Linked DNA regions of Homo sapiens: region 1 is linked to region 2. Evidence: fine-mapped expression QTL. A gene starts in region 2. The other region holds a variant in brackets. All regions are shown on one strand. Distances are between the middles of the regions. Region 1 overlaps TADA3 (transcriptional adaptor 3). Region 2 holds the start of TTLL3 (tubulin tyrosine ligase like 3).

Region 1 (4,383 bases), 22 kb after region 2:
TGACTTTGAGAAAGTTGCCTCATATCTCTGAGTGTCAGTTTCCCTATCTGCAAAGTGGGGTGAATAATAGGACCTACCTTAGTGCTTTTGTGAGGATTAAAAGAGAATTTTTTGCAAAAACTCAGCCCAATGCCAGACACTAAGTAAGTACTTCAGATGTTATTTATTTGCTACTCTGATGACTTTATTCACTGCATAAAGATGCCTTGAGCCTTGTGTGCCAGGCGCTATGCTGTATTCTGCAAAATAGAGATGGTTAAGGTGGGCTTTCTGGTCCTCAGTAGCTTATGGTCTAGTTGAAGAGACAAGGTGTGATGGTCATTCCAGTGTGACCAAACAACACGATTGGGTGCACGTTGGAGCTGTGAAGTGCCAGAGACTTGTGGAGGAAGGAGGTGCCAACTGGACCTAAAAGGATGAATGGAATTAACTTGTCCCTGGGAATCCATGGACCCTCCTTGAGGAAGGCTATGACTCAAGTTGTATTTTAGCATCTAAGAACCTGGGTAACTGATTGAGAGAAGGCATCTCAGTAGTGGTGACATCGAAGTGAAGGTTTGCTGAGAGGACTCTTCTGTTAAACAGTATGTGACTGGCATGGGTGATACAGAAGTGAATCAGTATAGATGAACAAGTGAATGAGATTATGAGAAGTATATGAATAAAGTTCTAGGAGGCCAGGCACAGAAAATGAGCTGAATTTTGAAGGATGAGTAAGAGTTTACTAGGTAAAAAGAGGATGGGGAAAGACCCAGGAGCCTCTGTAGATTCTAGATCCTAATTTATTCACTAGAGGAAAGAGATATTCTGTGTTTTCCCTTCTCCCCCTCAGTGACACTTTCTGTAAATTTCAGATCCTCACCGACTGGCAGGATAAGAAAGGTGACAGACGATTCCTGAAGCTGGGTCGAGACCATGAACTTGGAGCTCCCCCCAAACATGGGAAGCCCAAGAAGCAGAAACTGGAAGGGAAGGCAGGACATGGGCCGGGCCCTGGCCCAGGACGGCCCAAATCCAAAAACCTTCAGCCCAAGATCCAGGAATATGAATTCACTGATGACCCTATCGACGTGCCACGGATCCCCAAAAATGATGCCCCCAACAGGTTCTGGGCTAGAGAACATAGAAGGGGGCCTCAAGGTTCTGGTGGTGGAGGCACTGGTGGGGCAGGGGCGCCCACTCAGGATCTGCTTCTCCCTGCAGGTTCTGGGCTTCAGTGGAGCCCTACTGTGCTGACATCACCAGCGAGGAGGTCCGCACACTTGAGGAGTTACTGAAGCCCCCAGAAGATGAGGCTGAGCATTACAAGGTAGAAACTCTGGGCCTTGATAGACATGATGCGGAACAAGAGAGTTCAGAGGTGCCTGAGAAGTAAAGCTACCAAAGCCATGCATCATCTTCCTTCCCCAACCCTGCCCAGTCTGCTGTCTGCTCCATCAGTGCCTCCAGACACCTAGGCCCAAACTCAGCTTTCTCCGTGCACTGCCTCCCCTCTACCCCAGCCAAATGTCAACACGCCCTCAAGCATCTACTTAAGTGAAGTCTGCCCATGTTCCTTTATCCCCATCCCCTCTGCTTTGGTCCAAGCCTTCATCAACTTCTATCCAAACAGCCTCTTAACTCTCTTCCTGTTTCGAGGCCTCTGGAGGAACCTTTCTTCTTTCTTTAAGATATAAAACTTGGGCTGGGAGCAGTGGCTTATGCCTGCAATCCTAGCACTTTGGGAGGCCGGGGCGGGCAGATTGCTTGAGCTCAGGAATTTGAGACCAGCCTGGGCAACATGGTGAAACCCCATCTCTACCAAAATACAAAAAATTAGCCAGGCATGGCGGTGTGCGCCTGTAGTCCCAGCTACTCGGGAGGCTGAGTCAGGAGGATCTCTTGGACCCGGGAGGTGGAAGTTGCAGTGAGCCGAGATCACGCCACTGCACTCCAGCCTGGGCAACAGAGCAAGACTCCGTCTCCAAAAAAAAAAAAAAGATATAAAAGTCACCTCACGCCTGTAATCCCAACACTTTGGGAGGCTGTGGCAGGCAGATCATCTGAGGTCAGGAGTTCAAGACCAGCCTGACCAACATGGTGAAACGCCGTCTCTACTAAAAATACAAAAATTAGCCTGGCACGGTGGCATGCACCTGTAATCCTGGCTACTCGGGAGGCTGAGCCAGGAAAATCACCTGAACTGGGGAGGCATCGGTTGCAATGAGCCAAGATCGTGCCACTGTATTCCAGCCTGGGTGACAGAAGGAGATTCCATCCATTAAAAAAAAAAAAGCCGGGTGCGGTGGCTCAAGCCTGTAATCCCAGCCCTTTGGGAGGCCGAGGCGGGCAGATCACAAGGTCAGGAGATTGAGACCATCCTGGCTAACACGGTGAAACCCCGTCTCTACTAAAAATAGAAAAAATTAGCCGGGCGTGGTGGCGGGCGCCTGTAGTCCCAGCTGCTCGGGAGGCTAAGGCAGGAGAATGGCGTGAACCCGGGAGGCGGAGCTTGCAGTGAGCTGAGATTG[T/C]GCCACTGCACTCCAGCCTGGGTGACAGAGCAAGACTCTGTCTCAAAAAAAAAAGAAGATATAAAACTATGTTTTAATGATGAAAATAAATAAAACATGCTCCATTAAAGAAAATTTAGAAAATACAGAAAAATGTTGAGGGAGAATCCTCCCATAGGTGAGCTGTCATGATCAGATGTGCTCATGACATGGCGCTGCATCCAGGCCTTTCTTCCTCCCGTTATCTACAGGATCAAGTCCACGCATCCCAGTCCTTGCTGGCACAGCTCCAGTGCCCCTCTCCATTTTCCTCGGCCATATCCCTCTTCATTGCCGTGTTGACCAGTCCCACCAAGTATCTCGCCCTCATTCCAGGACACCACAGCCTCCTCGCTGGTCTCTGGGCCTCTGGCAAGCTCTTCTCTCCCTCTTGTCTCCTTGACAGACTTGACTCACCCTTCAAGGCCCTGATCTCATGTTACCTCCACCAAAGCACTCTTTCAGATTCCCCAGCAGAAAGTTAGTCAGTCTCTCCTTTGTGCTGCCACAACACTTTGATCTCTCTCTTTCACTTCACTTATCTGATTTCTTAAAAATTTATCTGAAAAAGAGTTCATACAGACAGCAGTAAATTCAAGCAATACAAAAGGTAATTCCCTGTCACCCGTGACCTGAAGGCTCCTAATTCTCTCGAGAGGCAATTGCTGTGACCTGAGACAATCTGTGTACGTATTCTGCACCTTCTATCTTGGGAATTATTTCAGATTGGCTTCTGTGTGTGTGTCTTAGTTCTTTTTGGACCTGTCTCCCTTACTAGAGTGTGAAGTACAGGTTTTATCTTCGTTGTACTTTCTTACCTACACCTGACACTGGGCTTGGCCTTGGACTAGGGACTTGAGAGAGATATAAGATAGGTAAGTGAATGAATGAATGAAGCATGGCTGGCCAGTGCTTACCCACTCAGGGTTGGGTGCCATCTTTTCCACAGATCCCACCCCTGGGGAAGCACTACTCCCAGCGCTGGGCCCAGGAGGACCTGCTGGAGGAGCAGAAGGATGGGGCCCGGGCAGCGGCTGTGGCTGACAAGAAGAAAGGCCTCATGGGGCCACTGACCGAACTGGACACTAAAGGTAGGCCTCTCACCTCCCTGCCAACCCCAGGTCAGGACTTGAATTCCAGAACTTCAGCCCACCTCCCCTCCTTTCCTGTGCCCGCTTAGATGTGGATGCCCTGCTGAAGAAGTCTGAGGCCCAGCATGAACAGCCGGAAGATGGATGCCCCTTTGGTGCCCTGACGCAGCGCCTCCTGCAGGCCCTGGTGGAGGTGAGCAGCCTAACCCAAAAGAGGAACCATATTTACTTTGTGTTTTAATGTGTTATGCTTATTTTTTATCGGAATTTATCATACATTTATTAGGTTGGTGCAAAAATAGGTTGGTGCAAAAGTAAAAACCTGGACTAATATATAGCAAAAGATTGGGAATAATATATAACTTGTGCACCTAATAGAAAAGTGCACAGATCATAAATGTACAGTTTTCACAAATGAGCTTGTATTACCAGCCTGGAGATTACAAAATGAAACATTACTATATCCTAGAAGCCCCTCTCATGCCCCTGTTTTTCTCCAACTTTCCCCAAAGGTAGCCTTACTCCACAATTACTTTTGCTAAGCATCTGTTGGAGGGGCTTTATACACATCCTCCCACTGGAGGCCAGGACAGTGGTTAACGCTGTGTTACAGATAAGAAGATTGAGGCTCAGAAAAGGGAACTGTTCACTTGAGGTCTCACACACCAGGATTCAAACCCTAGCTTCAGGGGCCCTGTCTTTATACCTGCTGGTTGACCTTAGACACACCCTCACACTCTTTCACCTCATTGAGACTCAGTTTT
Region 2 (4,383 bases):
TCTGCCATCAGGAAATTTTTATATTCCATTAGGAGAAATAAACAGACTATAAATAAGTAGAGAAATAAATATGCATGGTAATAATGATAATAGCAATGGCTAATATTTATTGAGGACCTACTACATGCTGAGCACTTACATGCATTACTAACAATACTGTGTGTTTTTATTTTGTTTTGTTTGAGACAGGGTCTCACTCTGTTGCCCAGGCTGAAGTGTAGTGGCACAATCTCGGCTCACTGCACCCTCTTCCTCCTGGGTTCAAGCGATTCTCTTGCCTCAGTCTCCTTGAGTACCTGGGATTACAGGTGTATGCCACCACGCCCAGATAATTTTTTTTTTTTGAGACGGAGTCTTGCTCTGTTGCCCAGGCTGGAGTGGCACAATCTTGGCTCACTGCAACCTCCACCTCCCGGGTTCGAGCGATTCTCCTGCCTCAGCCTCCCCAGTAGCTGGGAGTACAGGCGTGTGCCACTGCGCCCGGCTAATTTTTGTATTTTTAGTAGAGACAGGGTTTCACCATATTGGCCACGCTGGTCTTGAACTCCTGGCCTCAGGCCAAGGCCCGCCTTGGCCTCCCAAAGTGCTGAAATTACAGGCGTCAGCCACCTCATCTGGTGCCCAAATAATTTTTATATTTTTTGGTAGAGACTGGGCTTCACTGTGTTGGCCAGGCTGGTCTCCAACTCCTGGCCTCAAGTGATCCTCCTGACTTGGCCTCCCAAAATGCTGGGATTACAGGTGTAAGCCACCGCGTCTGGCCAATACTATGCATTTTTATTAGATACTGTTATCTCCATTTTACGGGCTATGAAACAGAGGCATAGAGAAATTAAGCAGGGTGCCTGAGGCCCCATAGTGGTTAAGCAAAAGAGCAGGGATTTACATCCTGGCAGTTTGGCTCCAGAAACTGCATACTTAATGGGATCCAGAGAAACTACTTAGAAATACATGGTCAGGGAAGGTTGAAAGGAAGCCATGAATGTACAGAGCTGGGAAATGGCGGTTCAGGCAGAGGGGAATGCATGTGCAAAGGCCTTGAGGCTGGAGAGAGGTCAGAAGGAACTGAAGGGAGACCAGAGTGAGTGGAACATGGAAAATGATGGGGAAAGCCCCAGAGGAGGTAGGCAGTGGCCAGACTGTGGAAGGCCCTGCAGGCCTTGGAACGGACTTGGATTTCATACTAAGAGTGTCATGAGCAAAAAAGGCTAACTGAGGGAATCTTTCTAAGCTTGGCTTGCTGCTGTATTACAAAAAGATGAGGGGACAGGATGGAGGTAGACCAGCTAGGAGGCTGTCATAGTTTGCCTAGGAGAGAAATCACAATTACTAAAATGAAGGTGGTTACAACACAGACGGGAGAAGGTGCTAGAGTTGAGAATCGTTTTGGAGGTGGAGATGACAAGTGGTTTTGCTGATGGAATTAGACCTGTGGGTGAAGAAACAGAAAGATGAGATTTCTGGCGTGAGGAACTGAGAGATGGGAAAGACTGGAGACTGGGGAGGACGACAGGTTTGGGCAGGAAGATCAAAGTCTGGTTTGGGACATGAATTTGAAATGCTTGTTAAGTTTTCTGGGTGTAGATGACAGGTAGGGGCTAGATCTACGGGATGTGGAGTTCGAGGCTGGGCTGGAAGGGGCACGGAGAGGGTGCAGCACACTGACTGGACTCAGCCAAGGACACAGCCAAAGGAGACAGACCTGGGGAAGGGGCCAGGGGGCCACTAATGGCTGAGGAACCTTTAAAGGCCGCTGAAAAGCAGCAGCCAAAGAGGGAGAAAGGAAAACTAGGAGCGTGCAGTCAGACAGCCAAGAGGAAGGGTGTGTGGGGCAGCGGTGTCGAAAGATACAGGGTGCCCAACCGAGATCAAGACCGAAAGGCACTGCTGGGTTTGGCTCCCTGGAACTCACCAGGCACCTTGATTAGAGTGGGACATCGCAGGGAACCAGAGTGGAGGGAGCCCAGAAGTTTGGTGCTGAAGGGGTAAACGGGGAGGTAGTTGAAGATGGGTGTGGTGGTTGAGGATTTTTGCTATTGTTTTTTCTTTTGCTTTTGTTTTTTAAGGATATAAGAAAACAGCGCAGGGAGACAGGCTGAGCCGCTCCCAGGGCCCTTTCTAAGCGCCCCTGCCCCTCCTCTGACCTTGACAGCTCTCTCCACGTAGATTTTGGCGTTTCTGAGCCGGTTCATGTGAGACGCCTTGGAGGATCCTCGCCAGAGGACCGGGAAACCTGCAGAAAGATGCGGAATAGGGGCGGGGTACACTGAGGCTGGGCCTAGGGTCTCGGCCTAGGATCTTTTCTGGCCGCCCATAGCCACGCCTCTTTTCTTCCTCCTGCCTTCATCCAGATGCCCACCCTCAGCCGCTCTTCTCCCGACCCCCAGTCCCTCCACCCCAGCGTCTTGTCGTCCTCGCAGCCGCTGTAGGCCAGAGCGAGCGGGCCGCACGGGCCTCACCATCCTGCGGAGAGGGGTCGAGGACCGGGGTGTGCGGGGGGCCGAGGGGGTGGGTATCCGAGGCGCCCTGGGCGTGGGTGCCTGGGACCAGCGTCTTGAAGGCGCCGCTGAGGCGGCGCGCAGGGGCGGGGCTGCCCGCCTGGCATCTGCCGCCTGCGTGACCCTCCTCGGACTGGGCGGAGGCAGGGCCGGCCCATGGCAGCCTCCTGGGTGGACGGAACTCGGAGCGGCGCGCCGAGGGGAAACTGGTGCGTGGCTCGAGCGGCTGCGGCTTCCGCAGCCAGTTGCACACCGCGCCGCCCTCCTGGCGGTACCAGGAGGCCGAGCCCCGGCGCCCGGGCCCCAGCTCCCTCGCGCTCAGGAGCAGTGGCGCGTCGGGGCCCTGCATGCGCCCCTCGCCGCGCTCGCCCTCCCAGGGCCCCTGATCCCGCGCCCCTCCGCGTCGCCGCCTCCTCTCCCGGGAAGTTCCTGCCTAGGCTCGAGCCTTGTCCTCCGTTCCAAGCCCCGCCCCGTTTGCTATTGCCTTGGAAACCATTCCCTGGGCACCATCAGACCGCTCGGGGCTGGTTGGGGGCTGCGATGGGCCCCGGGGCAGTCGAGCGAGGGCTTCCTTATGACCTGGGGCCTCACCCAGACCCTTGATGAGCAGGGCACTGAAGGCGGAAGAGAGCACTGAGCCCCAGTTAGTTAGTGTTGCGGTTCCTTATCCAGTACTTCCTGGTGCCACCGGCCCTAGGGTTTGAGTGATTCCACAGTATTTATAGGCGCTAACAAATGGCCCCTGACCTCATGGAGCTTACTAAAAGCCCAGTGTGAGGGGAATAAAAAGCAAGTAACAAAGGAAGAGAATAGTTTACAGGTATAATAAGGGCAATGAACAAGCAGAGGTGAAACCAGGAAGGGGGCGCATTTTAGATAAAGTGGCGCATTTAAGCTGAAGGTGTAAATGCCAGGAGTCAGGAGTCACCAGGGAAAGGGGAGGAACTGCACTTCAGGGAAGGGACAGTCCCAGCAACAGCCCTGAGAAGGGTAAGAACCTCTGTGCGAACTACAAGACAGCCAGGGTGGCTGGAGCCTGGTGAGGCCAGATCAGACCTGCTGGGCCTGGCAGATGGGCCTAGGGTAAGGTCCTTAGCGAGGGCAGCATATGGGGGTAACAAGAAGGTGCAGAGCACACCCTCCCCAGAAACTGGAAATGGAAAAACAATCATTTGAGTCAACTGCGAAAGAAATGTAATAGTTCACAACAGTTATGCCTGGCCCCCAGGCTAAGACTGTAAGCAACCTTTTTGGAAGCACTGGCAAAATATTATCCTCAAAAGTCACAGGGGAGGTAAGGCTCCAAGATGTTAAACAATTTGCCTCAAATCACAGAGCAGAGGCAGCACTGGAACCCAGGTCTGACTCCAAAGCCTGTCTCTTAAACACCTGTTATCACTCAGGTTGCCTGCCAGTCACAGAAGGACCACACAGGGACAGTTTGAGAGGCAAACTCTAGCAGTGCCCCCGCAGGCAGAGTCGAAGAGTGTCCTGGTAAGAGCCCAGCTTTGTCAGTCACTGGGTAGATGTGCTCTTAAGAGTGAAGGTGGATCCCCCACCTTCCTGTCCAGCTGACCCCAACTCCCCTTTAGCTGATGGCTGGACTTCCCGAAAAGCATGCCCCCCAGGAAAGGTGATTTAGGGAATTTGGACCCTGGGAGAGAGATACATGACAAATGAGGTTTGTGGCTGGCTCACCCAGGCAATGCTGTCCTGTGAGGGTTGTTGAGTGACCAGCTGCTATATCCTATTAGTCACCCAGTTTCACTGTGAGCACCTTTAACATTCACTGCAAAGCTAGAACATAGCCATGTGCCCTGGAGGAGGGAACACCTAATTCAGAGGGGTGGCGAGGTAGGTCACAGAGGTAATGTCATAAAGGAGA

Evidence for each region. PIP is the estimated chance that this variant, and not a neighbour inherited with it, causes the effect.
Region 1: its variant is the best candidate, but not a certain one, in a credible set for the expression of TTLL3 in nucleus accumbens (GTEx, PIP 0.54).

The regions. Positions count from the first base shown.
Region 1 is chr3:9,786,435-9,790,817 of GRCh38, reverse strand. TADA3 (transcriptional adaptor 3) reads left to right here. Exons shown (of 9, transcript NM_006354.5): 3 at 855-1,105; 4 at 1,204-1,309; 5 at 3,478-3,619; 6 at 3,709-3,812. It also overlaps a transcript of OGG1 not described here. Among named protein-coding and RNA genes, the nearest start is that of TADA3, 3.8 kb to the left of the region's middle. RefSeq lists an enhancer at 1-18. The variant T/C (reference allele first, on the strand shown) is at 2,511.
Region 2 is chr3:9,808,471-9,812,853 of GRCh38, reverse strand. It overlaps TTLL3 (tubulin tyrosine ligase like 3), which reads right to left and starts at 2,592. Exons shown (of 14, transcript NM_001387446.1): 1 at 2,460-2,592; 2 at 2,145-2,233. The coding sequence starts at 2,192. All of the region lies in intron 4 of ARPC4-TTLL3 (ARPC4-TTLL3 readthrough), which reads right to left. RefSeq lists a silencer at 2,411-2,890 and an enhancer at 3,371-3,520.